Homo sapiens: one gene and its partners. The protein of the gene in region 4 purifies or fractionates together with the protein of the main gene of each other region. This does not show direct contact. Each region holds a gene or a part of one and is shown on either strand. Other genes may lie near its edges. The genes, in order: NSUN2, ME1, URGCP, TOM1, PAWR, ADAT3 and DNPEP.

The links.
Region 1: the proteins of TOM1 (region 4) and NSUN2 fractionate together in Homo sapiens (co-fractionation; one large-scale study listed by BioGRID). This does not show direct contact.
Region 2: the proteins of TOM1 (region 4) and ME1 fractionate together in Homo sapiens (co-fractionation; one large-scale study listed by BioGRID). This does not show direct contact.
Region 3: the proteins of TOM1 (region 4) and URGCP purify together in Homo sapiens (co-immunoprecipitation; one large-scale study listed by IntAct). This does not show direct contact.
Region 5: the proteins of TOM1 (region 4) and PAWR fractionate together in Homo sapiens (co-fractionation; one large-scale study listed by BioGRID). This does not show direct contact.
Region 6: the proteins of TOM1 (region 4) and ADAT3 purify together in Homo sapiens (affinity purification with mass spectrometry; one large-scale study listed by BioGRID and IntAct). This does not show direct contact.
Region 7: the proteins of TOM1 (region 4) and DNPEP purify together in Homo sapiens (affinity purification with mass spectrometry; one large-scale study listed by BioGRID and IntAct). This does not show direct contact.

What each region holds. Positions count from the first base shown.
Region 1 is NC_000005.10:6,615,513-6,619,860, forward strand, and holds part of NSUN2 (RNA cytosine C(5)-methyltransferase NSUN2), read right to left. Parts: intron 2,513-4,348; coding exon 2,438-2,512; intron 1,346-2,437; coding exon 1,215-1,345; intron 1-1,214. UniProt on the Homo sapiens protein: RNA cytosine C(5)-methyltransferase that methylates cytosine to 5-methylcytosine (m5C) in various RNAs, such as tRNAs, mRNAs and some long non-coding RNAs (lncRNAs).
Region 2 is NC_000006.12:83,428,062-83,432,939, reverse strand, and holds the start of ME1 (NADP-dependent malic enzyme), read left to right. Parts: upstream 1-1,888; 5' UTR 1,889-1,985; coding exon 1,986-2,063; intron 2,064-4,878. UniProt on the Homo sapiens protein: Catalyzes the oxidative decarboxylation of (S)-malate in the presence of NADP(+) and divalent metal ions, and decarboxylation of oxaloacetate.
Region 3 is NC_000007.14:43,896,334-43,900,681, forward strand, and holds part of URGCP (up-regulator of cell proliferation), read right to left. Parts: intron 1-4,348. UniProt on the Homo sapiens protein: May be involved in cell cycle progression through the regulation of cyclin D1 expression. May participate in the development of hepatocellular carcinoma (HCC) by promoting hepatocellular growth and survival.
Region 4 is NC_000022.11:35,305,794-35,310,141, forward strand, and holds part of TOM1 (target of Myb1 membrane trafficking protein), read left to right. Parts: intron 1-4,348.
Region 5 is NC_000012.12:79,617,289-79,621,636, forward strand, and holds part of PAWR (PRKC apoptosis WT1 regulator protein), read right to left. Parts: intron 3,920-4,348; coding exon 3,788-3,919; intron 1-3,787. UniProt on the Homo sapiens protein: Pro-apoptotic protein capable of selectively inducing apoptosis in cancer cells, sensitizing the cells to diverse apoptotic stimuli and causing regression of tumors in animal models.
Region 6 is NC_000019.10:1,908,079-1,911,700, reverse strand, and holds part of ADAT3 (probable inactive tRNA-specific adenosine deaminase-like protein 3), read right to left. Parts: intron 1-3,622.
Region 7 is NC_000002.12:219,374,728-219,378,760, reverse strand, and holds part of DNPEP (aspartyl aminopeptidase), read left to right. Parts: intron 1-3,738; coding exon 3,739-3,906; intron 3,907-4,033.

The DNA of each region.
Region 1 (4,348 bases), on a different chromosome or scaffold from region 4:
CCATGCAAGAAAACATCACCCAGAAATGACATCTTTACAGAGGTCTACATGAGCACAGGAAAATAAACACAACATTACATTCCAGCTTAAAGGACCGTGAAGGCCATCAACAACCGCAGGGCTGAGGGCACAACCCAGACCAGCCAGCCGCCAAGGGGAGCCTCACTGGAAGGACAGCAGCAGGTGGGCACTGCCCAGGAAAGGCCTCTCTCACTGACTATGCACCAACTGACTTCACACACGTGGGTGCAGGAAACATGCTAAGTTTGAAATTTCTCATTATTGGCTCTAAGGAAAATATGATGGGAAAAGTTAACATTCTGGCAAAACATAAAAGGAGAAATATTTTATATCAATACACTGTAGAAATACACTACTGTTTCAGAATATTCTGTACTATCTGTCAGTTCCTCAGTATAAAACTGTATGAGGTGACCTCACACCCATTAGGATGGCTACTAACAACAAAGAGCCCCAGATAATAAGTGTCCCTGAATGTGTAGAGAAATTGGAACCCTTGTGCACTGGGGGTAGAAATACAAAATGACGCAGCCACTGTGAAAAAAAGCATGGTGGGGTCCCCCCAAAATTAAACACAGAATTACTATATGATCATATGATCCAGCCATTCAACTTCTGAGTGTATATCCAAAGAATCGTAACCAGGATCTTGGAGAGGTATTTGTATACCATGCTCACAGCAGCATGGCTCACAACAGCCAAAAAGTGGAAGAAACCCAGATGTCCATCAACAGATGGATGGGTAAACAAAATGCGGTTTATATAAACAACAGAATAGTGTTCAGCCTTAATAAGCAATGCAATTTTGACACAGACAACAACACAAGTGAGCCTCAAGGACGCTGCAGTAAGTTAAATAAGCCAGTCACGAAAAGACAAATACAGTATGATTCCGCTTCTGTGAGGTCTAGAGTAGTCAAAGTCATACAGACAAAAAATAGAACGGTGGTGTGAGGGGCAGGGAAGAGAGAGATGGGAGCTACTGTTTAAAGGAGTTCAGAGTTTCAGTTTTGCAAGGTGAAGATTTCTGGAGATGGATGGTGGTGGTGATTAACAATGGGAATATACCTAACGGGACTGAACTGCAGGCTCAAAAATGATTAAGATGGTAAACCTCACGTTATGTGTATTGTACCATACACATATGAAAAGCCCCCTATGCTGTTAATAAAAGATCCATCAAGCGTGCTTACCTTCACTTTTTTCCAGTAAAGATGCTATGACTGCTTCATCCTCAATAGGGTTTAGTGAACACGTGGAATACACCATCCTTCCACCTTCAGCCAGCTGTTCAGCCCCGCGTGTTGCAATCCGCAGCTGTAAGCTAAGGGGAGATATCAGATGACTGCAAGGCCAAATGTATCCATGAAGTGCACATATTAGAAGCACCTCCTTATGTCACATATTCATTACAAGCTTTTATAACACAATTATACTTAAAAAAAACCTTCCAGGGATCTAAATGAAGTTAGAGTAAACTTATATAAAGTGTTTCATGTTAATAAAAAAAATGTATTATATAAATATTCTTACTGCTCTGTTAACCTTTCCCAATATGTCAACCAGCAGAGTATAAAGTTCAGTAACAACAGAATTCAATGTATTAGATGAAATTTCACTATTTAAAAAACCTCCATACTTCCTAAATATGTGGTTTTTCTATGAAAAATTGGTATCATACATTCCAGTCCTAACTCTTGTCTCTGTGTCACAAAACAGTAGACAGTATTTTATGGAGACGAGGCCTCCTGCTATAGTTGGTTGTGGTGGATGCTAATTAGTATTCTGTGGCTCAGGCACAGTACAGTCCTGCATGCAAGACCATGGCATTTGTCATGTCAAATGAAAAAAAGAATACACTGCTCTACAGACAGCATGATCAAAAGTATTTGGAAAAAGTACTTAAAAAATCCCTGTAAACAGAAAAACAATACAACACACCAAACATTAACAGACGTGATCATCGTGTTATGAGATTTCTCTTTAAGAATTTTCCAATTGTTCTTTAATGAATAGTTCCCCATCATAAAAAGCCAACCGAAAAATATTTCTAAGAGATCAAAATGTCTCTTAGCAAAACGATGATACAAAAGAACAAAAACAGAGAGAAAAGATTAGTAATGCATACATCAAGAGGTAAACGGTCATTTCATGGAAAAATACATATCTGAAGTGTTGCAAGAAATTTTTATAGAAGGCATTTTTAATAAACGTGTTATCTGAAATGTATACAATTTGCAGTTATTGCTCTTGAAAGGTTTTCAAATAACTTCTGATAAAACAGTTGAAGGTGGCCATTGACCATCCTCTGATGCTTACAGCTCTCTAATTAAAGATCGGATGCTCACTTGCATAACAATAAATCTCTGCTGATCTACTTGTCACACAGTGTTAGCAGTGATGAAGTTTTACTTACCCATGTAGCTGCAAGCTATTTAAGGTGGTCCACTTTTTCCAAACATCAATGTTTTTTCTCATAGTGCCGTCTCCACTGGAAAAAAGATATTTATGAGTGCAAAGCTCCCTACAGGTGGATGACTGCACTTTAACAGATATGTCACATACAAGCTAAGTTACAAAACAAGTGTTACAAATATCAGTTAGGAAACAATCTCCATTTTCACCAACTGCAATCTGCTTTCAGCTTTTGTTTTAGGGATTTTCTAATGTATTATAGTTTTAAATTATACTTCAATTTTCAAGCAGAAAATAATGGATTTGAACAGTAAACTCCATTCACTAAGGAGATATTAATGTGCTTCCATTTGGAAAAAACACTAGCAAGACTAATTTGCAGACCTAGGACACAGAACCTAAAATACTATTGAAAATCTCAGTTAATCAACAATGACACTTTAATCAGAATTACATGAATAATGACTAATAAGAAATTTTCCACAGTTAAGCTAATATATTAGCTAAATTTTTCCTACAATCACAGGTAAACATTTCTGACTTTCTACTTTTATTTAATGGAAGTTATTTTCATGTTTTTCAGAACCTAAAATACTATTGAAAAACTCAGTTAATCAACAATGGCATTTTAATCAGAATTATATGAATAATGACTAATAAATTTTCCATAGTAATTTCAATTAAGCTAATATAATAGCTAAATTTTTCTTACTAATAGCTAAATTTTTCTTACAATCACCGTTAAATTTCTGACTTTCTACTTTTATTTAATGGAAGTTATTTTCATGTTTTTGTTAATGGAAGCTCTTTCCATGTATATTTTATAGTAAAGACTGGATTTGTTACTTTCTGTGTCTAATTTTATCTGCCCTGTTTTCCCAGAAGGTAACGCCTGTTTTTGTTGGCTTTCTCTGTAAATGCTGATTTTCCTTGATGGTCTAGCCGCGTGTACACGAGGGACTAGGTCTGCAGGATGGAATTATCCCATGAGATGTAATCCCCACTTTGCAATGGCATTCCTGGCTGTACACTAGTTGTTTGCATGGTAGAAATCCCACCACAATTTCAGAAATTTCCCCAGCTTGCAACCTCTTGCTCATAAGGTCACTGCGTTCTCAGATCTCAGAATATGATACAAGGAACGAGTTATCTTTCTGATCAAAAAACAGGGGTAGGAAAACATGAGACCCCAAGGAATACTGAAAAATTGCAACCTAGAGGAAAAAAAAACTTTAGTTCATGATGTATTTTAAATTTTACTTTAAAGAGGGCTTTTTCCAGATTATTTTAACACTCAGCTATATTCAGAGCCACCAGCTGCAAGTTTCATACTGAGTTTTGCCATGAGCAGTAACTCTGCCACTTACTGAAACAAAATGGCATTCTTCCATAATGTGGTATCGTATCTAAAGCTTGCATTCTGTGCTAACAAGTTTTGTGGCAGCTTTTGAATTCTGGTCTTGACAAACTTATGTCATTCAGAAGTCATTATCACCTGGGATCATCATCCGTGCACCTCCTATGGGAACGGAACAGATGATGTCTTTAGTTTTGTTTCTTTCCTTTTAAAAAAACTTGTTACTCAGTTATACCATGAGTATTATTTTATATCTAAACTCTAAATATCTAAAATGTTGATGTATTATCTCAAGAAAGGTATAAAAACACAAGCAAAATGAATTTCTTAAGGGCTTGAACTCCGAAATTTCTTTCATTCAACTAAATAACATAAAATCCAATGTGATTACGTATTATTTTATGACAAAGTTTTTTATATACTGTACTCACTGGAAGAACTAATACAAAATAGTTGGGGTGCACAAATTGTTCCAAGCAATAACATCCTAAAACACACCACAATAAGAGTCTACGATTCTATTTTCCTCTTACGTATTTTCTCTGTTTTGTTTTG
Region 2 (4,878 bases), on a different chromosome or scaffold from region 4:
AAGATGTGAACTTTACCTACTACTGGCAGGATATTGTAATCCCCTTGTAATGTTGCCTTTGAGGGAGAGGCCATATACTCTTTGTGGGTTACTCCCTGTACTTATAACACTTTTCCTATCTGTAGATATTAAATCTCAGAAACAGGAACAGGTAGGTAGTATATCTAAATTCATGTAATAAGTACTTTATTATAATAAGGGTCTGTTGTACTAACATTTTTGTTTCTTCTTAAGCAGCTTGAATTGGCTCCCATGCCAGCTGTTAAACTGTTTCCTCTCACATAAAACACCCTAACTGTAATGTGTCTCAGTTAATTCAGGAGAGTGAGTTGTGTAAAGTACACCTTTTTCTTAGATGTTGTAGGATTGAGTATTTATGGAGTATAGAATTAACAATGAAAGGTGTCATTTAACTTCAAGGATTTTTTTCAAAAAGAACTTTGTGATGCCTAGAAAATATTCTCTATAAAAACAACGAATTCTAGATAATTCAGGCGAGGTCAAAGAAGCTTCTAAATGTAAATACGGACAAAATACAATTACTGTAAGAAATCTTTCTGATAAGGCAAAGTTAACATAACTAGAAATGAAAACACTGTGATTGGATGTGTGTCTAGTATATGGAGATATAAAATCAGCAAATAATCTCAAACACTATCCTTTGTAATATCAGTATGCAGAGACAAATGGGACAGAAACTAGCAATCCTATTTAACTGAAAAGGAAACTGGGGCACAGAAGGCTTTAGTGTCTGTTGCTATTAATTTATTTTTATCAGACAGGCACTCCTTTTGGCTATGATCTGACTATTCCTCCAGTCCATGAACCTCCAAGCATAAATATCAATAAAACAATAAAAAAATGGCCCGGCGCGGTGGCTCACACCTATAATCCCAGCACTTTGGAAGGCGGAGGCGGGCGGATCACCTGAGGTTGGGAGGAAGGCCTGAAAGACTGCTTACTCATCATTATTCAGAGAGAGCAGTGGTTCTTGAACATCAGGTTTCTAGAACTCCCAGAGAAATAATATACAAGATAAACAGGACTGTTCATTGGGCCTTTGCACCCTAACACCTTGACTCTTATCTTATTGACATTCAAATACAATTCCGGTGGAAAATCTGTAGAAACTGACAGGTGTGGCGCCTGAGCTCTCCTCTCTGGGCTTCCTCCCAGTTCCCTTGGGCCTCGGCATTCTGGGTCAAGGTTGGTTCCCTCCGGCCTCAGGGCCCCGGGCATGGCCGGCATCCTGGATGGCACGGCGAAGGTTGTGGATCTGTAGAAAGAGGGCTTCCAAGACGCTAACAAGACAGGAGAGACGAGTCTGATTCTCCTCAGCCTGTCGAGGTGTTCTGTCAACAGTTCTGGGGACCCCTCACGAGTCCTTCCGTCCTGTAATCCCCCTAGGTGTCTGAGCGACCGCCGGCTCTGCCTGAACCGCTCAGGTTCGCACCTTCTGGCATCTTCTCGCACTTTCTCCAGCCTTCCCGGGCAGGGGGATCCTGGCCTGACGCTCCCCGCTCCCTGCCCCCGCCCTGGGTCTCTGGGGTCAGCAGAGCCACCCAGTGCACTGCGTTTAGGCATGCCCACATGGAGAGAGGCGACCACAGCGGTGATCATAAGCCCATGGTGGGCAGAGGCCCTATGGAGCCAAGGGCTCCGGCCGCCACCCCCGCTCCGCCACCAGCAGCGCTGCCAGGACTCGCTCTTCCTCCTCCTCCTCACACGCCGGCTCGGATGATCTCCTGCCATGACTCAGCGCTTCTCGCAGGCTGCCCTGCTGGGGACACCGGCTTCGCTCGGGCCCCTCCCGACGCGTCCACCCCCTCTCGCCACCCACGCCCGCCCCCAGCCGCTGGGCCTTTCCCAGTGCGGCCGCCGCCGCCACAGCTGCAGTCAGCACCGTCACCCCAGCAGCATCCGCCGCCTGCACCGCGCGTGCGGCCCGCCCCGGCCTGACCCCGCCGCCGAACCCGGCGCCAGCCATGGAGCCCGAAGCCCCCCGTCGCCGCCACACCCATCAGCGCGGCTACCTGCTGACACGGAACCCTCACCTCAACAAGGTAAACCCGCAGGCCCACCTGGCCGCCCATCGGCCCCTCTCTATCAGGGTCAGGGCCCTCTTGCAGGTCCCCGCACCATGGCCTCGCCCCTCCGCCGCTCCCCTGGGAAGGTTCCCGGTGAGCGGCCGCGGCCTGGGGGGCCTTGGTGTGGGCAGAAGGAAGAAGGACGCCTAATCGGGTCCGTATCCACTAGAGTGATGGCAGGGCAGTGCTGGTGCCTCTGCACCTCGGCATCCCATGTTAGGGATAGAGGTAAAGGTAAAGGTTAGTGATAGAGGAAAAGGTGATACTTTTCGGCAGCTCTTCTCCAAAAACAAGAGCCCAGACAATGAAAGTAGTATCAGACAAAGTGTGTGAATGGAGTGCCAGGTCAGACTCCATGTGCCACTCACTTACTGGTTGCACACACAGTGTGGCAATTATTGGAAGTTGATAAGGCGAGAAGTGGCTCAACTGGTCCTGCCCAGACAGAAACGTGTACTGAGTGCCTTCAGATCACGTTAGCAATCTGGAAATCCAAGTCCTCTCGGTTTCTGGAGTGACACGGTTAAGAGTCTGGGAATGCGTGGTGGGTGGCCTCTGTCTTGGACACTTTGCATGGCTTGGTAGAAGAACTCTGTCCCAGACATGGGACTGTGGGTAAAGCCATTTCTTTTCTTTCTTTCTTTTGTTTTGTTTTGTTTTGTTTTGTTTTTAATTTGGCTTTCTGGAAGTTAAAAAAAAATTTTGTTTAGAGCTGCTCTCTTTTTATTAAAGGGGAATTCAGTGTACACCCTGTTCAGAGACTCCTTTTCGGATCCTGGTAACATTTCATTTTCCTTCACTGGTGATGCAATATAAGCACTCGGGATGTCTCTCAAATAAAAAATACCTCCGAATTTATCATTTTGCTTCCACACTTATTTTACAGCCAGGTTTGTCTCGGGATTGTTCCTTTTGTGTGTGTGTGTGCGTGCGCTTTGGACATTTCCTATTTATTCAGGAGTCTGAAAATGCCATCAGTCAGCACAGAGGTTTGTTTAGTTATTTTGGTTGTCTCTTTGGTGGACTGCATTTCACATTAAGAACAGAAGCTCAGCTTTTTCCTTGTCGTGTTCCTGATGATTTGTTGATCATATTAATGACTTAAAGACATGATTTATTTAACAAGTTATAGTCAGTGTGAGTGATTTTTTTTGTGTGTGTGGTGACAGGCACCTTTTACAAATCTATGACTGTGTGCTATCTGCCGTCATGTAGCATTATTAAATTGTAAATAATTCCAACTTATTTCTTTCTTTAAAATAAATTTAATTGCTAGTTTGATTGTTTTTTCTTTTCTTTTATTATTCTGCAGGTTTGCCACCTATTTTCAGTAGAACAAAAGTAAAATTTGATGTGACAAAACTATTTGTGACTTGTATGTGTCACCTGCCTACTGTAATTTATGACCAAGTTGTGGGTTGACACTTAAGAAGGACCACATGAGTTGTATAACCTGTTTGATTTTCCTCAAGTTGGGGGCAAGAGTGTCTATTAAGAGTATGTAGATGGCATGAGCAATCCCTGAGCAAGAGTAATTATTGCCTTTACTATGCTTACATCAAGAATTTATTATTATTATTATTATTATTTGAGACGGAGTCGCGCTCTGTCGCCCAGGTTGGAGTGCAGTGGCGCGATCTCCGCTCACTGCAAGCTCCACCTCCTGGGTTCACGCCATTCTCCTGCCTCAGCCTCCCGAGTAGCTGAGACTACAAGCGCCCGCCACCATGCCCGGCAAATTTTTTGTACTTTTAGTACAGACTGGGTTTCACCGTGTTAGTCAGGATTGTCTCGATCTCCTGGCTTCGTGATCCACCCGCCTCAGCCTCCCAAAGTGCTGGGATTACAGGCATGAGCCACCGCGCCCAGCCAAGAATTTATGATATAACAATCCTTGTGACTCCTGTTCACAAGGTTACTAGGAATTAAGGATTAATTCCTACTTCAGAATAATAGTATCACAAAGATCTTCTATCAAAGATAAGATGTAACATTAATATGTTAAAAGCACATTTTCAAATTTGTAATACTTGAACTTTTTATCTGCATTATGTCAAATTGGATCCACAATCCAGTGTACCAACTTGGAGGCAATCGATGGAATAATCTTTTACTCAGTTCTAGGATGGTTATCTGGTACCTTATGGGAGTAACAGAGTTTCCTATGTACCATTGAAACTACAGCTATGGGACTTTCTTCATCTGTCATACATTCAAGACCTCTAGGCCTTTAATTTTGCTAGTAGCTCAGGAATGTTTTGGCTTATTTTTATTCTTATTATTTTGTAATAACCTTGGCTCCAAAGAGACAAGAGTAGATTTTACTTCCCTCAACAACCCAGCCTGTCACATGTCTTCTTCAACCACACTAACACAGAACTTCATCATTTACCTTTGGGTAGCTGCAACAACAGTTTTGCTGGTTTTATTTCCATTGATATAGTTCATTCTACATATATATATGAAAGAGACACCTTCATTAATTAACATTTTCTTCACTTTTCTATTATCCAAGCATTTATAGTATGTTATTATTTCCTATTATGTTTAATGTAAAATCAGTCTGTCAATTGGGTTTACAGTCTTCTCCAAATTTATCTTATTCGTTCCCCAATGTAGGCTTCCACTTAAAATATATTTGCTGAATCTCTTAATTCTTTCCTTTTTGTGTGTAATTTCTACTATGAAAATGTCTTAGTTGATTTAATAATGATCTTTCTAGGGAAGCATTTCTTAGTTATGTTAGTCTTATTATTTAACACCTCTGTTTTTATGTATTCAGTTGTACTAT
Region 3 (4,348 bases), on a different chromosome or scaffold from region 4:
TAATCCCAGCTACTTAGGAGGCTGAGGTAGGAGAATTGCTTGACTCGGGAGGCGGAGATTGCAGTGAGCCAAGATTGCGCCACGACAATCCAGCCTGGGCGACAGAGAGAGACTCTGTCTCAAAAAAAAAAAAAAAAAAGATACAAAATTACAGTTAGGTAGGAGAATGGGATCTGGTGCTCTGTAATTCTGTAGGGTGAATATGGTTAACTACAATTTATTACATACTTAGTGTCAAAGAACTAGAAGATAAAAAAGTTAGTACTGTGTAAGTTTCCCCATACAATGGAAAATAGAGCTTTAAAACACAGCCTTAATTCTCCAACAGCTTACATTACCATTAAGTTGGAGAGAGAGGGGAACACTCACTGCACAAACAGTAAACAAACAAAAAACACTACAAACACACATATACTAACCTATAAAATGAGGCTGATCATCCCTGACACACATGCCTCAGATGTGCTACAAGGATCCAAAGGGACTTACATACATCTTAAGCAAAGTTCTCTTGGATTTATCTACATATTTATTGTGGACTTATTATTATTTATTATTTATTGTAGATTTATCCACATATTTATTGTTCTCTTGGATTTATCCACATATTTATTGCTAGGAACCTTTCTAGGAATTTAGGATACATTAATGAGGACACAAAGGTTCTGCTCTTGGTTTACAGTTCAACAAGGCAAGGGGATATTGGTAATCAACAATATCCCCTATATTTAAGAAGTGTAGGACTTGTAGCCCCAGCTACTGGGGAGGCTGAGGTGGGAGGATCACTTGAGCACAGGAGGTTGAGGCTGCAGTGAGCCGTGATCCTGTCACTGAACTCCAACCTGGGCAACAGAATGAGACTCTGTCTCAAAATAAATAAATAAATAAATAAATAAAAATTTAAAAGGCTATGCTAGAAGATGTTAAGTGCTACAGAGAAAACAAGGCACAGGCCAAGGTCAGGTGTGCTGAGAATGGTGGTGGGGAGCGCAGAGCAGGTTGGCTGGAGAAAGGGCCGTGTTAGTACTGGTTTGGAAGGAGGTGAAGGCAGGAGCTATATGACTACCAGGGGAAGACTGCCGCAGGCATAGCCGGGGCAAAGGCCCTAACGTACCCAGGGACCAACAGGGAGGCCCGAGTGGCTTGAGCAAGAGAGTGATCAGTGAGTAGGAGAAGGCAGCAGGAGAAGCTAGAGACGACTGAACTTTACAGGCCACAAAAGACTAAGGCTTTGGGGAGGAAGAGGAAGAGAAAAAAAATAAAAATAAAAAAGATTTTTTAAAAAAAGGTTCTGGCTGTTCTTATTCTAGAGGATGGGGTAGCCATGAAAGGGCCCTGGGTGCAGGGTGACAGGCCTGTCTATGTTACCGGCTGCCAGGCTGAGAATAGACAAGGGATCACAAACGCTCCATTATCTAGCCTTATATTCAGGAAAACAACAACAAAGGCTCAGACCTGGGCAATAGTACCAGCAGCAATGGCATGTGGCTGGACTCTCAAAAGCATCTGTGAAGGACTGCAACAGACTGCACAAAGTGTCTACAGACACAAGCCAAAATAAGTTCAAGTTTTCCAGGTTCAATCAGTTGCTCCTGTCTCAGATAGGGAGGTCTGTGGGTAAAGCAAGACTTGAGGGAATCGTGAGCAAATTGGCACTGACAGACTGGCCCGAGACCCCTACCCTTGGATATGCTAAGCCAGCACGTGAGCTGGAAGGGGTTTGGAGAGCTAATAAAGGCAATCCTTCAACGCGTATAGGAGAGACCACTGTCGGCAACTTCCCTAAAGATACATGCTCTACAACCTCCACCTGACACCACAGTGTACTCACAACAAAGACAGAATCAACTTGCATTTTCTCCATAATGCAAAGAAATGATGGTGCAGGTAGACCTGGAAAACCCAAGAGATCAACCTGAAAACTATCATAAACAATGAGAGAATTCAGTAAGCCGGGGACATACAAAGTTAAAATCAGTAACTGCCTTCCTATTATACAAATAGGTTAGAAACAATGGAAGGAGAGAGCTCCGATTTGTAGTAGCAACAAGAAAAATAATATGTTACAAATGTGCAACACCTATTTGAGAAGAATTTTAAAATACTGAATCTGATTAAGACTTGAAGAACTGAAAAGGGCTGGGCACAGTGGCTCATGCCAATAATCCCAGGACTTTGGGAGGCCAAGGTGAGAGTATCACTTGAGGTCAGGAGTTCCAAGCCAGAAGTTCAAGACCAGCCTGAGCAACACAGTGAAACCCCACTCTACAGAAAATTTAAAAATTAACTGGGTCCAGGAGCATGTGCCTTAAGTCCAGTTATTCAGGAGGCTGAGGTGGATCGCTTGAGCCCAGGAGTTTGAGGCTGCAGTACACAGCAGCCTGGGTGACAGAGCAAGAAGACCCTGTCTCAAAAATAAATAAATAAATAAATAAATAAATAAATAAATAAATAAATTTATTTTAATTTAAAAGAAATCTATTTCTGGATTTTCAGAGAGGAAAGAGTTAAAAAAAAAAAAGGCTGGGTGTGGTGGCTCATGCCTGTAATCCCAGCTCTTGGGAGGCCAAGGCAGGCAGATTACCTGAAGTCAGGAGTTCGAGACTAGCCTGGCCAACATGGTGAAACTGTTTCCACTAAAAGTACGAAAATTAGCCAGGCGTGGTGGCGCATGCCTGTAATCCCAGCTACTCGGGAGGCTGAGGCAGGACAATCGCTTGATCCCGGGAGGCGGAGGTTGCAGTGAGCCAAGACTACACCACTGCACTCCAGCCTGGGCAACAGAGTGAGGCTCCATCTCAAAAAGTGTATATATATATTTATATAAAAATTTTTATATAAATATATATTTATAATATATGCCTTATTATAATACAAATATAAATATTTATATTTATATATATAATAAAAAATGTTTAAAGGAGTATTCTATCTTAGGCAGAAAGGCTTAATTTTTTTTTTTTTTTTTAAGAGATGAGATCTCACTATGTTGCCCAGGCCAGTCTCAAATCCTGGGATCATGTGATCCATCTGCCTCAGCCCCCCAAAATGCCAGGATTATAAGCATGAGCTACCATGCCTGGCCTTTAATATAATTTTAAAAGTCAATTCTCTCTAAATTAACCTATAAGTAAATTGAGGTTCAAAACCAGTTGATTCTGTGAAAAAATATTTATGAAATAACAATCAGGAAAATTTTGAAAAAGAACAGTGAAGGACAAAACTTTCCAGAAAATAGAACATAATAATTAAATAGTCTAAAATAATTTAAGGTTGCTCATGAATATACAGAGAAATCAGTAAAAGGAGATCCCAGAAATAGGTCCAAATGCAGTCAAAAATTTCATCACTGATCTAGGTCGCTTTGAGTATCTGGAACTTATTCAATCACAAAAACCTGGAAAAAAAATTAAGGTAGGTCCCTACCACTTCATTCACCCAAATGAATACCAACTGGATCTAAGATTAAGTTTTTAGTGCCCTAAAAGAAAGTATTAGAGACCCTAAAAAGTCACAATAGGCTAAGTGTGGTGGCTCACGCCTATAATCTCAGCACTTTGGGAGGCTGAGGTGGGAGGCTCTCTGGAGCCCAAGAGTTCAAGAACAACCTGGGCAACATAGTAAGACCCTGTCTCTACAAAAAAAATTTCTTAAAATCCACAATAGCCAGGTGTGGTGGCATGCGCCTGTAGTCCCAGCTACTCAGGAGGCTGAGGCAGGAGGAATACCTGAGCACAGCAGATTGAGGCTGCAGCGAGCCATGTTGTTGCCATTGCACTCCAGCCTGGGAGACTCAGCAAAACTCTGTCTCAAAAAGAAAGAAAGAAAAAAAAAAGTCAGCCGGGCGCGGTGGCTCATGCCTGTAATTCCAGCACCTTGGGGAGGCCAAGGCAGGCGGATCGCTTAAGGTCAGCGGTTCGAGACCAACCTGGGCAACATTGTGAAACCCCATCTCTACTAAAAATACAAAAATTAGCCAGGCATGGTGGTGCACGCCTGTAATCCCAGCTACTCAGGAGGCTGAGGCAGGAGAATCGCTTGAACCCAGGAGGTGGAGGTTGAAGTGAGCTGAGATCACACCACTGCACTCCAGCCTGGGCGACAGAGTGAGACCCTGCCTCAAAAAAAACCAAAACAAAAAAAAAAAAAAAAAGAAAAAGAAAAAAAGTCACAATTCAGCAAATTTAAAACAGAACCACCACATCTGACCTACAGTGAGAAGGATGCTCCTAGCATACAGGTAGGTCTCTGTCTCTTTTTTTTAAAGACAGGAGACAGGGTCTCATTGTGTTGCCCAGGCTTAAGTGCAGTGGTATGATTATGGCTCACCGCTGCCTCAAACTCCTGG
Region 4 (4,348 bases):
AAGATGGAACTGGCTGCCTTGTTCAGTAGTGAGCTCCCCACCACTGGAGCTGTGAAGGCAGAAGCCGGGGTGGGGAGGGCGACTATAAAGAGGATTCCTGTGTTGGTTAGCAGACTAGACCAGGGTCAGTGAGCTTTTTCTATAAAGGGCCAGATAGTAAATACTTGTGGCTTCGTGAACCAGATGGTCTCTGCTGCAACTACCCAGTTCTGCCATTATAGCACAAAAGCAGCTACATAGGCCATAGGTAAATGAATGAGAATGACTGTGCATAAATAAAAATATTTATGGGCAATGAAATTTGAATTTCACGTAATTTTCACATATCATGAAATATTATTCTTCTTCAGCTTTTTTTTTTCCCAACTATTTAAAAATATAAAGACCATCTGTAGCTCGAGTACCATACAAAACAGACTGAATTTGGCATATGGGTTCATAGTTTGCTGACTTCTGAATCGGAGCAGCTGGCCAGAGGCAGAATGATGGAGCACACTGTTCCTCAAAGTGGGGTACCAGAGCACCCACACTGGGGATGCTTGAGGGTGCTTATCCCCACAGTGTGCCCATGTGAGCCCTAATATCTTGAAGCTTCTGTTTCCTGATCCGTAAGTACAGGACCCACATTAGATCCCCAAGTTTCTGTCTTGAGGATGACAGAGCTTTGTCTAGAAAGGGCTTTGTATCAGCTGTACACATATTAGTAGAGCCCAGGGTGAGCTTGAGTCAGACTGAATGGTCTGAGTCCTGGTTCAGTCCTCAACAGCTTTGTTACCAGGAGCAAGTTACTTAACCTCTCTGTTCTTCAATGTCCTCGTCTGTACAATGAGGATAATAATAGCACCTATCAGATAGGGCTGTCGTGTTGTTGTGCTATAAAGCACTTCCTGCCAGACAGGAAGTCTCTGTAATTATTAGCTGTTGTGATTTTTCACTGGTGTTATCATTCCTGGGACCCAGTCTAAGTTAGTAGCCAAGCTAAGTGCCAGCCCAAGATTCTGACTCCAGTGCAGCCTTTGTGATGGTCTTTGTGTCCCTGGCAAATGAGCGGTCACTGGCTGGGTGGCCACCACATTCACAGACAGGTCAGGTTTCAGGCTGTGGGGAGGAGCAGATTCTTACTTGGAAATTAAGGCCTTTGCCTTCCCCTATGGATAGAACTGGTGAATAGGTTTTATTCCCTTAGTGAGCTCAAAGAAATAAGAGTATAGTCCCAGACTTCCACTCTTCTGGTTTTAGAAAAAAAAAAACCCAAACCCTCAGTGTCTCCTAATTAGCTTGAGGCCATCACCCCATGAGAAGCAGGGGGATTCAGGACAGTTTAACTCTTTACTGCCTTACTAAGGAGATCTTGATCTAGGCCAGTGCCCTCCAAACTTCTGTCTTTCATGTAGCTCATTTGTGATTTGTGTCTACCCCCATGCCACCTTCATTATTATTTTCGTAGGGTTTTCTTTTCATTAGCTTATCTGTTAAAATTTGACCTCATCCTATATAATTATATCCATGAAATCATGGCTTTGATGTTCGTGTTTTTTTCCTATCCTGCATTAAAGTAAATAATGCAGGAGAGGAAAAATTTAATGTCCCTCTAAAAATGTCTTTAAGTTTGCCCATGAGCCCACCTGGCATGATCCCAGGTAGCTCATTTTGATCACTGGGACGTAAGCAGCCTGAAATGGGGTCACAGCTTAGTCTCCGCATCAGAAGAGCTGGGTTCAGGTGCCAGCTCCGCCCCTTCCCGGCTGTGTCCCCCAGGTCTCCTCCTCAAGGGACACGGGAAACTTAGAAGTTGATAGAGCACTGCAAAGTGCGGTGGAGAACCACTGTGCAAGCCCTGAGGAGGGGAACTGGGCCTCGCTCCTGCTGGGGAAGGTAGAGAAGGGAAGGACGGAGCCTGGAGTCTTCCCAGAAGGGAAGGACGGAGCCAGGGGAGAAGGGAGGGGGAGAGAAGAACCAGCCAGACCACAGGGGCTGAGACAGACAGAGAATTTAGGGACAGACAGAGGGGTCTACTGTTTGAACTTGTTTGTGTTGGTGCAGTATAAACCCTGTAGTGGTTAACTTTATGTGTCAACTTGGCTAGGCCAGGGGAGAAAGATAGTTGGTCAAACATTATTTTAGATGTTTCTGTGAACGTATGCCTTAGATGAGATTAACATTTAAATCACCAGACCCGCGTAAAGCGTATTGCCCTCAATAACATGGGTGGGCCTCGTCCAATCAGTTGAAGGCCTGAATAGGAAAAAGACTGACCTCCCCAGAACAAGAGGGAACTTGGCCAGCAGGCTCCCCTTGTCCTTGCACTTGGACAGCATCTGTTTCCTGGATCTCCAGCCTGCCAGCTCACCCTACAGATTTTCAACTTGCTAAGCCTTCACACCTGCATAAGCCAATTCCTTAAGCGCTCGCTCTTTCTCCTGTGTGTGTGTGTGTGTCTGTCTCTCTCTCTCTCTCTTTCTTTCTGCTAGTTCCTTTTCTCTTTTTTTTTTTTTTTCTTTTTTTTTTGAGACGGAGTCTCACTCTGTTTCCCAGGCTGGAGTGCAGTGGGGCAGTCTTGGCTCACTGTAACCTCCACCTCCCAGGTTTAAGCAATTCTCCTGCCTCAGCCTCCTGAGTAGCTGGGACTACAGGCGCGTGCCACCACACCTGGCTAATTTTTATATTTTTTGTAGAGGCAGAGTTTCACCATGTTGGCCAGGCTGGTCTTGAACTCCTGACCTCGTGATCCTCCCGCCTTGGCCTCTCAAAGTGCTAGGATTACGGGCATGAGCTACCACAGCCAGCCTAGTTCCTTTTCTCTAGAGATCCCTGACTAATACAAAGCCCACTCCACCCCTGACCATCCAGATTGTCAGCAATACCTTTTACACTCCCAAGTGGGGAGTGAAAACAAATGCCATCTGTACCTCAGCCAGCCACTTCAAGCCTCTGCCTTCACAGCCTCACTTCTTACCTGGGGAGTTTTAGAAAACCTTTCTTTATCTCACTGACATTTCCTTTTGTTAGGTACTATAGTTAGTTACATCGACTTTAACATTGTGGGTTGCGGAAGCAATACCCTCTGTAAGGTATTTTAGGGTTTCTCTTGTGGTTTATGGTTAAAAAAAATACAGGGGAGAGGCAGCCAGGGTTTTGAGGAAGGGTGGCTCAGCAAATTAGGAGATGGATGGAACTTTCCACGCTGGGTCTGGAAAGAGTTATTCCTTTGGAAAATAGTTTTCAAGACAAGTTTCTGGCTGAAAAAAAAATAGCTTCTGCATATTTGTGATTTAAAAATCTCTTATGGGGTGCTTGAAATTCTCAATCATGTTGTGGTTGATATGTTTGTAGAGGATAGCATTTATTTTGGTGCTTGAAATGTATACACTCCTCCTCACACATCCCTGGAAGGTGAGTGCTTTGGTCATCTTTATTCTGTAGAGGAGGAACTGAGGCACAGAGAGGCCGAGGAGTTACCCAGGCTCACACAGCTGGTAGGTGCTGGAGTCTGGGCAGGATTTGTCTGTGTCTGCATCCCATCCTCCCAACTTTTCCATCTCACCGATTCCCCCTTAGAACTGAAAGAGGCCAGGCGCAGTGGCTCACACCTGTAATCCCAGCACTTTGGGAGGCCAAGACAGGCAGATCGCCTGAGGTCAGGAGTTCAAGACCAGCCTGGCCAACATGGTAAAACCCCATCTTTACTAAAAATACAAACATTAGCTGGATGTGGTGGTGGGCGCCTGTAATCCCAGCTACCCTGGAGGCTGAGACAGGAGAATCGCTTGAACCGGTGAGGCGGAAGTTGCAGTGAGCCAAGATCGTGCCACAGCACTCCAGCCTGGGCAACAGAGTGAGACTCCATCTCAAAAAAAAAAAAAAAAAGAGAGAGAACTGAGAGACCTGCTGGGTTTCCCTTTGAGTGACAACATCTGTGTCCATCTAGAATGAATTCGTTCAGTAGTGGCTTCTTCTGTATTTCTGCCTAACCTTCTTGACCACATTGGTTTCATCCTCGTGCTTGCATTCTCACGGTAGGAAGCACAGGTGAAAGTACCAACTGTCTGTGTCTCTGTTACCAAGAAAGCAAAACCTTCCCCAGGAGCCGCCCAAGAGACACCCGCTTCCATCTCTGTGGCCAGAAGTCCCAGGGCTACTTCTGGCTGCAAGGGGGTCTAGAAAAGCTAAATGCTGTGAGCCCAGGGGGAGCATCTTCCACAACTATTGGAGTCAGCTCCACATGGTAGGGTTAATAAAAATTTCACATAGTCACTGAGTACAGTAATAGAAATACAGTATCTAGCAAGGACAGGTAAATGTGGCGTGTGGGTTCCCACACTGCATTTCCAGATGGACAGCATGGCTG
Region 5 (4,348 bases), on a different chromosome or scaffold from region 4:
TTGCAGTGAGCTGAGATCATGCCACTGCACTCCAGCCTGGGTGGCAGAGCAAGACTCCGTCTCAAAAAACAACAACAAAAAAAACTTTTAACAGTAAAATGTTCCCCACACTGGATAGATTATACCAGTATGATTAGAGACTGGGAGGGGTGGGAGTCTTCTTATGCATGTTAAAAATGGGCAATTAAAGGTGGAGTTTAAAGTGATTTCTATATCCTGGCCAAAAAGAGAAAACTGGGCATATCTTAAATTAGAAATGTTAGGTTAAAAAAAAATCAACCTATATGGTGCAGTGAAAGGTCCCTTATAATTTTTTTAGCTTTATTTTTAATTGACAAATAATGATTAGACATATGTATAAGGCACAAAGTGATATTTTTATTTCAATACATGTATATATTATGGAAGGATCAAATTAGAGTAATTAGCATATATGTCTGATATATTTTGGATGTCCCCTCCAAATCTCATGTTGAAATGTAATCTCCAGTGTTGAAGGCGGGGCCTGTTGGGAGGTGACTGGATCATGGGAGTGGATTTCTCATGAATGGTTTAGCACCAATGAGATCTGGTTAAGAGTATGGGACCTGCCCCCGCTCTCTCTCTCGCTCCTGCTCCTATCATGTGATGTGCCTGCTTCCGCTTTGCTTTCCTCCATGAGTAGCTCCCTGAGGGCCTCATAAGAAGCTGAGCACATGTTGATGCCATGCTTGTGTAGCCTGTAGAAGTGTGAGACAATTTAACCTATTTTTCTTATAAATTATCCAATCTCAGGTGTCTCTTTATAGCAATGCAAAGAACAACCTATACAGAATTACCTCAAATACTCATCACTTCTTTTTTTTTTTGTTTCTTTTTTTGAGACACAGTCTCGCTGTCACCCAGGCTGGAATGCAGTGGTGTGATCTCAGCTGACTGCAACATCCGCCTCCAAGGTTCAAGTAATTTTTGTGCCTCAGCCTCCTGAGTAGCTGGGATTACAGGTGAACACCACCATGCTCAGCTAATTGTTGTATTTTTAGAAGAGATGGGGTTTTGTCATGTTGGCCAGGCTAGTCTTGAACTTCTGGCATCAAGTGGTCCACCCACTTCGGCCTCCCAGAGTGCTGGGATTACAGGCATGAGCCACTGCACCAGGCCCTTATCACTTCTTTCTGGTAAGAACATTTAAAATACTCTTAGCTATTTTGAAATATACATTATTATGAACTATAATCACCTTACTGTGCAATAAAACAGAAATTATTCCTCCTATCTAACTGTAACTTTGCACCCATTGGCCAATGTTTCTCCTTTCTCCATCTACCTTAGCCTCTGGTAATCACCATTCTACTCTCTACTTCTATGAGTTTGACTTTTTTGGATTCCACATATAAGTGAGATCACTGCGACAAAATGGATGACGGCAGAGGACATTATGTTCACTGAAATAAGTCCCTGATAATTTTAACGAGGAAAATGCTTGACATTCTTACATGGTAGAACAAAATTCCACACAAATATAAACGTCACCTTAGATGTCTTAACTATATTTCTGTAGCCACAACAATTTCCAGGCAAAGAAACAACTATATAATTATTTGGCACTTTAATAATTACTACTCCATACTAAATAGGGAAAAAAAAAATGAAGAAATACAGTAGTCCTTTTTCCCTTATCCAAGCTTTCACTTTCTACAGTTTCAGTTACCCATGGTCAACCCATGGGTATTAATAAAGCTAGATTAATAATTTTTAATATTTGTTATTTAATAATTTTAATTGATAAAATTTTAGTATTTTAATTAATAAATTAAAATATTAAATAGAAAACTTGAGACATAATTTATAAACTTTAAGTTGTGAGTTGTCCTGACTAGCATGATGAAACTTGGTGCTGTCCTGCTCCATCTCGCCCAGGGCCTGAATCATCCCTTTGTAAAATGTAACCACAGTGTCTATGCTCCCTACCTATTAGTCACTCGGGAGCCACCTTGGTTATCAGACTGTTGTGGTATCCCAGTGATTGTGTTCAATTAACTTTTCTTTTACTTGATAATTGCCCCAAAGTACAAGAGTAGTGATGCTGGCAATTCTGATATGCCAAAGAGAAGCTGTAAAGTGCTTGCTTTAAGTAAAAAGGTGAAAATTCTCAGCTTAATAACGAAAGAAAGAAAAATCATATCCTGAAGTTGCTAAGCTTTATGATAAGAACATATCTTCTATCCATGAAATTGTAAGGAAGGAAAAACAAATATGTGCATAGTATATATAGCGTTCAGTACTATCTATGATTTCAGGCATCCATTGGAGGTCTTGGAACATAACTCCCTTTGATATGGGGGTACTGCTATACTAGTATCATTGAAACGGCTTGTAAAAAGTACAACTGTTAAGACTGGTACTGGTCTTAAAAGTTTCAAAGACTACGTAATTAGATCTCCCCCAAATCCTTAAGTCTGTTATACAACTGATTTCAAATATACTCTTTCTGAAACAATCTTCCTTGCAATGGGATGGTTTCTATTACTAAAGGGAAGGGGAAAGATCTATGTAGAGCTGAGAAAATGTTGGCAAAGCACAAACTGTTTTGTGTAAGTTTAAATAAAACGCTCTGCTTTATTCAAGCTTATAAAGATCAATAAGGAAATCCCCATGAAAACAGTCTTTACAGGTACAGTGGCAGATCAGAACTTCTAACGTATAAACAAGTATAACAGCATAGGTGAAATAAGATCAGACAAATACAAGTCAGATGAATACAGCAAAGTAATACTGATGTTATTCAAATAATCTAGCAACAAAGCCACAGCCCTCAGTAAAATTATGGCATAACATGCTAACTGACCCTCAGGACTAACTTAAAATATCTATGTTGCCATGTATAATTTAGTATGATATATTGTTGAAGATGACTTCAGAATAAAATTTCTCTAATATATAACTGATAAAATAAGAAAATGAAAAATAAGAGCTTTATCAAATTAACAAATATTTTAAAAGGAAAAACTCATCCTTCCCCTTCCTTTCCTGAATAATTAAGTCCTAAAGCCATTAGGCAGGGCAGAGCAACGTGAGAAAACACAGTGGCTCAGATCAGGGTATCAGAACCTGTCATAAAGAAGAGCTGCTTGGCATAGAGAATTCAAGTCCAAGCAAACCAAGGAGACTGCTCACATAGCACAGCTCACTCAGCCTGACCTAAGAAATCAGAGCCTGAGCAGAATGAAGAAGATTTCTACAAAGCAGGGAAGGTAAGGCCTCATTTGTGAGGCAAGGTCAGAAAGGGAGTCCCATAAAGGGGCAGCCAGAGTCCCAAGTAGAATGTGAAGTTTACCTTTACAGGAGGGTGGCTCAGAAAAGGGTGATAGAGCTCTAGCAGGGTAAAAAATGTCTACCCTCCAAGAGGCAGCCTGGCATGGGGTATTCTGTGCCAGAGCGCAGGCAGGATGAAGTGAATGTTCACATGGAGTGGCAGTCTGGCCTGGAGTTGTCAAAACCTAATCAAGTTGAGGAAGAGTCCCCATGGAGGAGCAATCCGACATGAGTTCTCCGAGTCTCAGCAGGAGCAAACAGAGGCCCTACAGAACAGCCTATCAAAGGATGCACAAGCCGGAAAAGGGTGAAGAGAGTGTTCATGCTTACGGTGAGCCCAACATGTGATGTCAGAACCCACTTATGGTAAGGAAGGCATAAGTAGGAGGAAAGGAGGCAATGGGAGATATATTACTACATACAACTCAAGAGGCATAATTGAAAAATTGCCATTAAAATAGATAGTGACTTCCTGGTATTTTTAAATACTCACCTGTAGCAGATAGGAACTGCCTGGATCTAGTAAGTTTACAGCTTCATTCTGAATAGTGTTCTGTTGTGTAATTGCATCTTCTCGTTTCCGCTCTTTCTGCCCTGCTTCATCATCTTCGTACTCATCTAAGCACTGAAAGAAAAAAAGAGTTTCCATTTTATTTCTACTATTAATAGACTGTTTCGATAATATGTGAAAATATATTGATAGTATTAAAGAAATATTTGTGCATTCAGAAATTAGTTTGCATAATAAAAGTATTTTTCTTTCAGCAATATGTACATTTAATTCCTATAAATTATCTGCTTAAAACTTGTACTTCCATATCCACACCACTGCCAACAAATCTTTTCCCTAAACTCCAAACATCAGTGACAGGGTTTTCTTAAAGGAAAGGTTTATTCATTCTTTATCATTCATTCAATAAGTAAACTACGTCTACCTTAAACAAGGCATTCTGCAGAAGGTAACAAAGGATGCATTAAAGAAATGGAATTTATAATCTAGTAGGAAAGATAATACATATATATAGATAGATAGATAACTTAGTGATAAAGGCCC
Region 6 (3,622 bases), on a different chromosome or scaffold from region 4:
AGCTATTCTCATGCCTCAGCCTCCAGAGTAACTGGGATTACAGGCATGCGCCACCACGCCCGACTAATTTTTGTGTATTTTTAGTAGAGATGGGATTTCACCACGTCGTTCAGGCTGGTCTCGAACTCCTAACCTCACGTGATCCACCCGCTTCAACCTGGTGGTGGGATTACAGGTGTGAGTCACTGCGCCCAGCCAAGACAGGTCATTTTCAAAAGCACAATTCATGGCTAGGTACCAGCGGCTCACGCCTGTAATCCCAGCACTATGGGAGGCCGAGGTGGGGGGATCACTTGAGCCCAGGAGTTTAAGACCAGCCTAGGCAACATAACAACACCCCATTTCTACTAAATATCAAAAAATTAGCTGGGCGTGGTGGCACACACCGGTGGTTTCAGCTACTCGAGAAGCTGAAACAGGAGGAGCACTTGAGGCCGGAAATTCAAGGCTGCAGTGAGCTACAATCGTGCCACTGTACCCCAGCCTGGCTGACAGAGCAAGATGCCATCTCAAAAAAAAAATGAAAACCCGGGCACGGTGGCTCACGCCTGTAATCCTAGCACTTTGGGAGGCCGAGGCAGGCGGATCACAAGGTCAGGAGATCAAGACCATCCTGGCTAACACGGTGAAACCCCGTCTCTACTAAAAATACAAAGAATTGGCCAGGCCTGGTGGCACGCACCTGTAGTCCCAGCTACTAGGGAGGCTGAGGCTTGCAGGAGAACCCAGAAGGTTGAACCTGGGAGGCGCAGGTTACATTGAGCCGAGATCGCGCCACTGCACTCCAGCCTGGTAACAGCGCGAGACTGTCAAAAAACAACAAAAAAGCCAGGCGTGGTGGCTTAAGCCTGTAATCCCAGCACTTTGGGAGGCTGAGGCGGGCAGATCATGAGGCCACGAGATCGAGACCAGCCTGACCAACATGGTGAAACCCCATCTCTACTAAAAATACAAAAATTAGCTGGGCATGGTGCCACGCACCTGTAATCCCAGCTACTCAGGAAGCTGAGGCAAGAGAATTGCTTGAACCTGGGAGGCAGAGGTTGCAGTGAGCCGAGATCGTGCCACTGCACTCCAGCCTGGTGACAGAGCGAGACTCTGTCTCAAAAAAAAAAAAAAAAAAAAGACACCTCAAAAACCAAAAACTATCAAGTGTCCTATTCAGTGGCTCTTAGGACACTTGGAGTTGTGCAACCATCACCACTATAAAATTCCAGAACATTCCATCACCCCTAAGAGAAAACTTGTCTCACCACCCTACAACACACACAGCAACCCAGGCAACCACTGATGTGATCTCTGCATCTCCAGAAGCCAGAGCCTGGAAGCAGAAGCGGGGACAGGCGGCGCCTGGCTTCCAGACAGAAGGGCCATGTGGCCAGGAACTGAGCAGGACCCTTGGTCCCCCGGCCGCAAGCTGCTGAATTCCGCCAACGCCTGCGTGAGTTGCAAGCAGATGCCACCCCCGTTGAGCCTCCAGATGACAACACAGCCCTGGCTGACACCTGGGTTCCAGCCCGGTGAGACCCCGCAGAGAGGAGCCAGCCATGTCACATTCAGGCCCCGACCCACAGAACCGGGAGCTGGCGGGTGTTGTATTAAGCCCACAGATGCACGGAGTCTGCTATGCAGTGACAGAAAGCAAGCATGCCAAGTGTGGGGGACACGGGGCCCCCTCCCAGAACAGCACACAGCCTGGCACTGACACGGAACACCCACCTCCAGTGGTTTCTGTAAACACTCGCCCCCTAGTCGGCCAAGGGCTAGGAAAAGAGAGACCTCAGAAGACAAGCCACGAAACGTAAGCCCCGGAGCGCAGCCCCTCCCCTGGTGGGCCCGACTTCCCATCCCTTGACCACATTCCTGCAGCTGTGGTGGGCCCTGGCTGTCGGGTGGAGCAGGCAGCCACTGGGGTGTCCCTGCTTACTCAGTCACAGAGGAGGCCCTGGCTGGAGTGGGGCTGCGGGAAGAGCTGGGATCACTCCCGGGGCTCCTGCTAACATCCCTGACTGCCGGGCAGTGTGCCAAGGCGGCTCTCGGGTGAGAACCTCCCGGCCTGACATCACCAGCACTGTTACCATCCCTGCCGCTGGCACAGGTGAGGACATCCCTGCTGCTGGCACAGGTGAAGACATCCCAGCCACTGGCACAGGTGAGGACGGGAGGCAGTAAAGCCGTTACCATCCCTGCTGCTGGCACAGGTGAGGACAGGAGATAGTAGAGCCATTACCATCCCTGCTGCTGGCACAGGTGGACATGAGGCAGTAGGGCCACTCCACTGGAGAGGAAGGGCTGGTGGGGCCCCCAGCTCTCGGGATCCGCCCATTAGAAGGGAGCCTGCCCTAGGCGGGCAGACAGCACAGCAGAGAGGCAGGCGTGGGGACAGCCAGCCTGCAGGGACTGCTCACAGGGCCCTGGGGGACAGCGCCTCTGGCTCCCACATCTCTGGCATCCACCCCACCTGAACACCCCCAAACCACAGTCTCAGCTGGCCAGCCTTCCCCCACCTGCATCTGCCCCCACAGACTCGCACCGCAGGCCTGAGGTTGGATTACAGGCGTAAGCCACCATGCCCAGCCCACATTTTTTTTTTTTTCAGACAGAGTCTCACTCTGTTGCCCAGGCTGGAGTGCAGTGGCATGATCTCAGCTCACTGCAACCTCCACTTCCCAGGTTCAAGCGATTCTCCTGCCTCAGCCCCCCTAGTAGCTGGGAATACAGGCACATGCCACCACGCCCGGCTAATTTTTGTATTTTCAGTAGAGACGGGGTTCCACCATGTTGGCCAGGCTGGTCTTGGAACTCCTGACCTCAGGTGATCCACCTGCCTCAGCCTCCCAAAGTGCTGGGATTACAGGTGTGAGCCACCGTGCCCAGCCCACATTGCTTAAAAGTATAAATTAGTTGGGCACGGTGGTGTGCACATGTAGTCCCAGCTACTCAGGAGACCAAGGCGAGAGGATCACTTAAGCACAGGAGTTTGAGACCAACGTGGGCAAGATAGAGAGACCCTGTTCCTTTTTTCAAATAAATAAATAATAATAAAATCCTAAAAACCTTACTACCTGTGTGCTCACAGTTATTTCTAGCAGACAGTACTGCCTCAGATGGTGCTGGGGCTAAGCCGCAGATGATCTTAAAATGACTCCAGCCGGGTGATCCTGAACTGCCAGCCTGGACTACACATCCCCGCTGGTATGGACGGCTCCTCCCGCAGACAGGGATGTGTCTCTGGATCATTTCGCAGCCGCGCAGCTGTGGGTGCTACTCCTCGACATGCACTGCCTGGTCCACGCCTCAGCCGCCGGGGCGCCCCACAGATGGGGGACCAGCAGCCAGTGGAACTCCAGGCCAGTGGCCTTGGAGGTCACGCTGAAGCGGCCCCAGCGCTGCCCGAAGCTCACGCGTTCAACAAAGCACAGAACCGGAGATGCAGTGGGAGCCGGGAGCAGGAAGCGCGGAGGCAGCGCCAGGTGCTGCCGCTGCCCGAGGCCCCGTGCCAGGTGGGGCCCATAGCAGCCGACTCGCTGGGCCCTCCCAAAACGCACACCACGCGCGACCAGGACCGAGAGGCCCGCACGGCCCTGCTAGGCCACAAACACTCCACTGTCTCCAGGGTAAA
Region 7 (4,033 bases), on a different chromosome or scaffold from region 4:
ATGCCACAACATCGCAACAGCTGTGATGTCACTAGGCGACAGGAATTTTTCAGCTCCATTATAATCTTACGGGACCACTGTCATATGTAGTCTATCTTTGACTGAAATGTCACCATGTAGTGCATGACTGTCTATTTCTATATTTATCTGTCTACCTCTCTATATCAGGGACTCAGGCATGGGCGGTCCAGTGACAATCATAGCAGGTGTAGAACCGTGGTATCCTGACTCCCAGCCCAGGGCTCTTTCTGCTGCACAGTGTTCACTCTTCCTTTCGGAAAGCTGAATTGTTCTGCCCCCAGGAAGCCTTCTCTGAGGACGTGATATTTGAGCTGAGACCTAACCACTGAGAAATAGGCAGCTATGGGAGGGTCCCAGCCAGAGGGCACAAGTAGAAAGGCCCCAAGGGGGGCCAGGAATGAGCTCGTCTTTTAGGAGGAGAGAAAGGCAGGATGGTAGAGCCAGGATGAGAGCAGGAGAGGGTTAGGGGAGAGGCCCAGCTCAGTGATGATACAGGAATACCTAGGCCATGGAAGGACATTTCAATTTTATTCTAAGGCAGTGAGAAGACATTGGGAGATTTTTCTTTAATAATTTACAGCAGAAGTAGGACACATGTATTTTAGAAAATTAGAAAATACAGATAGAGATGAGAAAATAAAACACTAATCTGCAGAAATTTGGTATAGTCTTCCAGATTTTTTTCTATGCATAAACTTCATATACACTTTTTTAAAATGATATTATATTGGATATATTTTTGTTGCCTCTTTTCACTCAGTCATCTTCACCTTTCTATTTGAGTTTGGTTTTTTTTTTTAATGTTTTTTTAAAATTAGAAACAGGGTCTTGCTTTGTCTCCCAGGCTGGAGTGCAGTGGCATGATCATAGCTCACTGCACCCTCAAACTCCTGAGCTCAGAAGATCTTCCTGCCTCAGTCTCCCAAGTAGCTGGGACTACAGATGCATGCCACCATGCTGGCTAATTTTCTATTTTTAGTAAAAATGGGGTTCTTGCTATGTTGCCCAGGCTGGTCTTGAACTCCTGGCTTCAAGCAGTCCTCCCACCTTGGCCTCCCAAAGTGCTAGGATTACAGGCATGAGCCACCATTCCCAACCCCATTTCAGGAAATTGTTGTTTCAGTAAACTTGTACCTCATCTAATGCACAGATCACTTTCCGTTTTCCCCAGTTATCCTCAAAATATTTTTTTTACAGGTATTTGGCCCACCCTAGTATCCAACTCAGGACAATGCGTTATATTTGGCTGATATGTTGCTTAAATGTCTTCCAGTGTAGCACAGTTCCCCCCACCCCTTTTTAAATAGCATTGGCTTATTCAAGAAACTTCTGGATATGTCTCCTTGCTGCCCCATGGTGTCATTTAGCTTGTCTGTAAGCCCCGTATTTCCTATCAACTGGAATTTCTAAAGACTTGATGGATTCAAGTTAAACTTTTTTTTTTTTTTTTTTTTTTTTTTTTGACAGAGTGAGAGTTTCACTCTGTCGCCCAGGCTGGAGTCTAATGGCGTGATCTCGGCTCATTGCAACCTCCGCCTCCCTGGTTCAAGTGATCCTTCTGTCTCAGCCTCCAAAGTAGCTGGGATTACAAGTGTGCACCACGATGCCCAGCTAATTTTTGTATTTTTAGTAGAGACAGGGTTTCACCATATTGGCCAGACTGGTCTTGAACTCCTGACCTCAAGTGGTCCGCCCACCTCAGCCTCCCAAAGTGCTGGGATTACAGGTGTGAGCCACCGTGCCTAGCCTCAAGTTAAACATTTTGGGCTAGAAGACATGGCTGGTGTATTCATATGGCATCACACACATGATATCTGGGTGGGCCACCCTTAGCCTTGCAAAGATTGACCACTGGACCAGGAATGGCCTCTTATCCTTTCATTATATAGTGCTTTTCCCCTATTGACCTGACAGTGACCCATACAAGTGATGAGTTCCCTATTAACCAGATACCTAATGGTTTTAACACTTACAATAATCCTTGTCTAAATCAGTAATTTCATTAGAATTTACCGAAAAATGCCCGCTTCCCCTGAATTCTTTCAGTCTTCCATTCTTCTGTGAAGTGGAACTTCTTCCCTCCAATCAACTAGGGTTCTTTGGTTATCATGGAATATCATTCCTATTGATTGGAAAGCAGGATAAATGCTAATTCTTTCTGTTATCCACTTTTCAAGGTGAAATGTCGTCTCAAATAGTGACAAAGAAAGATTTTTCCTTTTCCTTTTTTTTTCTTTTTCTTTTTTTTTTTTTAGACAGGGTCTCGCTCTGTTGCCCAGGCTGGAGTGTAGTGTCGCAATCTCAGCTCACTGCAACCTCCTCCCCACAGGTGCAAGAGAGTCTCATACCTCAGCCACCTGAGTAGCTGGGATTACAGGCATGCACCACCATGCCCGGCTGTTTCTTGTATTTTTAATAGATACAGGGTTTCACCATGTTGGCCAGGCTGGTCTTGAACTCCTGGAATCATGTGATCTGCACACCTTGGCCTCCCAAAGTGCTGGGATTACAGGCGTGAGCCAGCACACCTGGCCTGCTTTTCCCTTTCTGACTATCTTAGAATCATGGAATTTCATTTATTCAGTGTCCTCTATAATTATTATATTTGATTTGTGAATTGCCATGGCTTTGACCAGTGGGAGCCCCTTCAGCATAACTCCTGTGCCCTTTGACTCTTGGAAGTCTCCTTGCTTTTTGGCACAACAAAAATTGTAGACATGTCTTGTTCATTTCGCCCCCCAGACTTGGTAGTTTTTGGCAAGCAGTGGTATTAGAGACCATAGCCTGGCACTGCAAGTGTTCATTGTTCTTGGGGGAGGGGACGGTGCTTTGGGTCCATTTCCATGGACATAGCAAGAAAAAAGTACATATTTTAAAAATCATGAAGCCAGGTGTGGTAGCTCAGGCCTGTAATCCCAGCACTTTGAGAGGTAGTGGATCACTTGAAGTCAGAAGTTCGAGAACAGCCTGGCCAATATGGCAAAATCTCGTCTCTACTGAAAATACAATAATTAGCTGAACGTGGTGGTGCGTGCCTGTAATCCCAGCTACTTGGGAGGCTGAGACAGGAGAATCGCTTGAACCCAGGAGGCAGAGGTTGCAGCGAGCTGAGATTGCGCCACTGCACTCCAGCCTGGGCATCGCAGGGAGACTCCATCTCAAAATAAATAAATAAAATAAAATAAAAATTTTTAAATAAAAATCATGAGTTAATACTGTAATTCTTATTCATAAAATTATTCTTATTTAGTTAAATAGTTACTACCTATTTGATTTTGTAATTCTGTTTTCTCTTACACTGAAAACCTTGATATCTAGCATCATATTTTCATTTTCTTATTTTTTTACCATAATATAAAGAAAATCATTTCAAAATGTCAGTAGCAATATTTTTAAAGACACTGATACCACTGAGTGATTTTTTTCTGTGAGTGTGGATATTAAGCAAGAGGGTGACAAGGATGGATACTTTTAAAAATCCCCCTTCCTGCTGTGTGGAGAATGGATTGGAACTAGGGTGGTGGCAATGCAGATAGAATGGGACCAATTCAGAATATATTGTCCTTTGGGGTCTGCCATTTAGCATTGGCTTTGATTTTATGCTCCGAATGGACCATCTCCCAGGCCCCTTCCCACCCTGCAATTCTAAGATGGCGTCCTCCTTGGCTCTGATAAGCACACACTGCATGTTGCTCATGGGTCTCCTGCTCTCCCTAGGATCTCATGGTCCGGAATGACACCCCCTGTGGAACCACCATTGGACCTATCTTGGCTTCTCGGCTGGGGCTGCGGGTGCTGGATTTAGGCAGCCCCCAACTGGCCATGCACTCTATCCGGGAGATGGCCTGCACCACAGGAGTCCTCCAGACCCTCACCCTCTTCAAGGTAACACCCACCCCAGACCCTCTCTGGCAGCTGGGCTGCTTCCCCTCTAGTGCCTGGATTGGTTGCTGGGACAACATCGCCATCACAAAGTGACTGGCCTGAGTAATGGGGGCTGGTTGTCATGCTG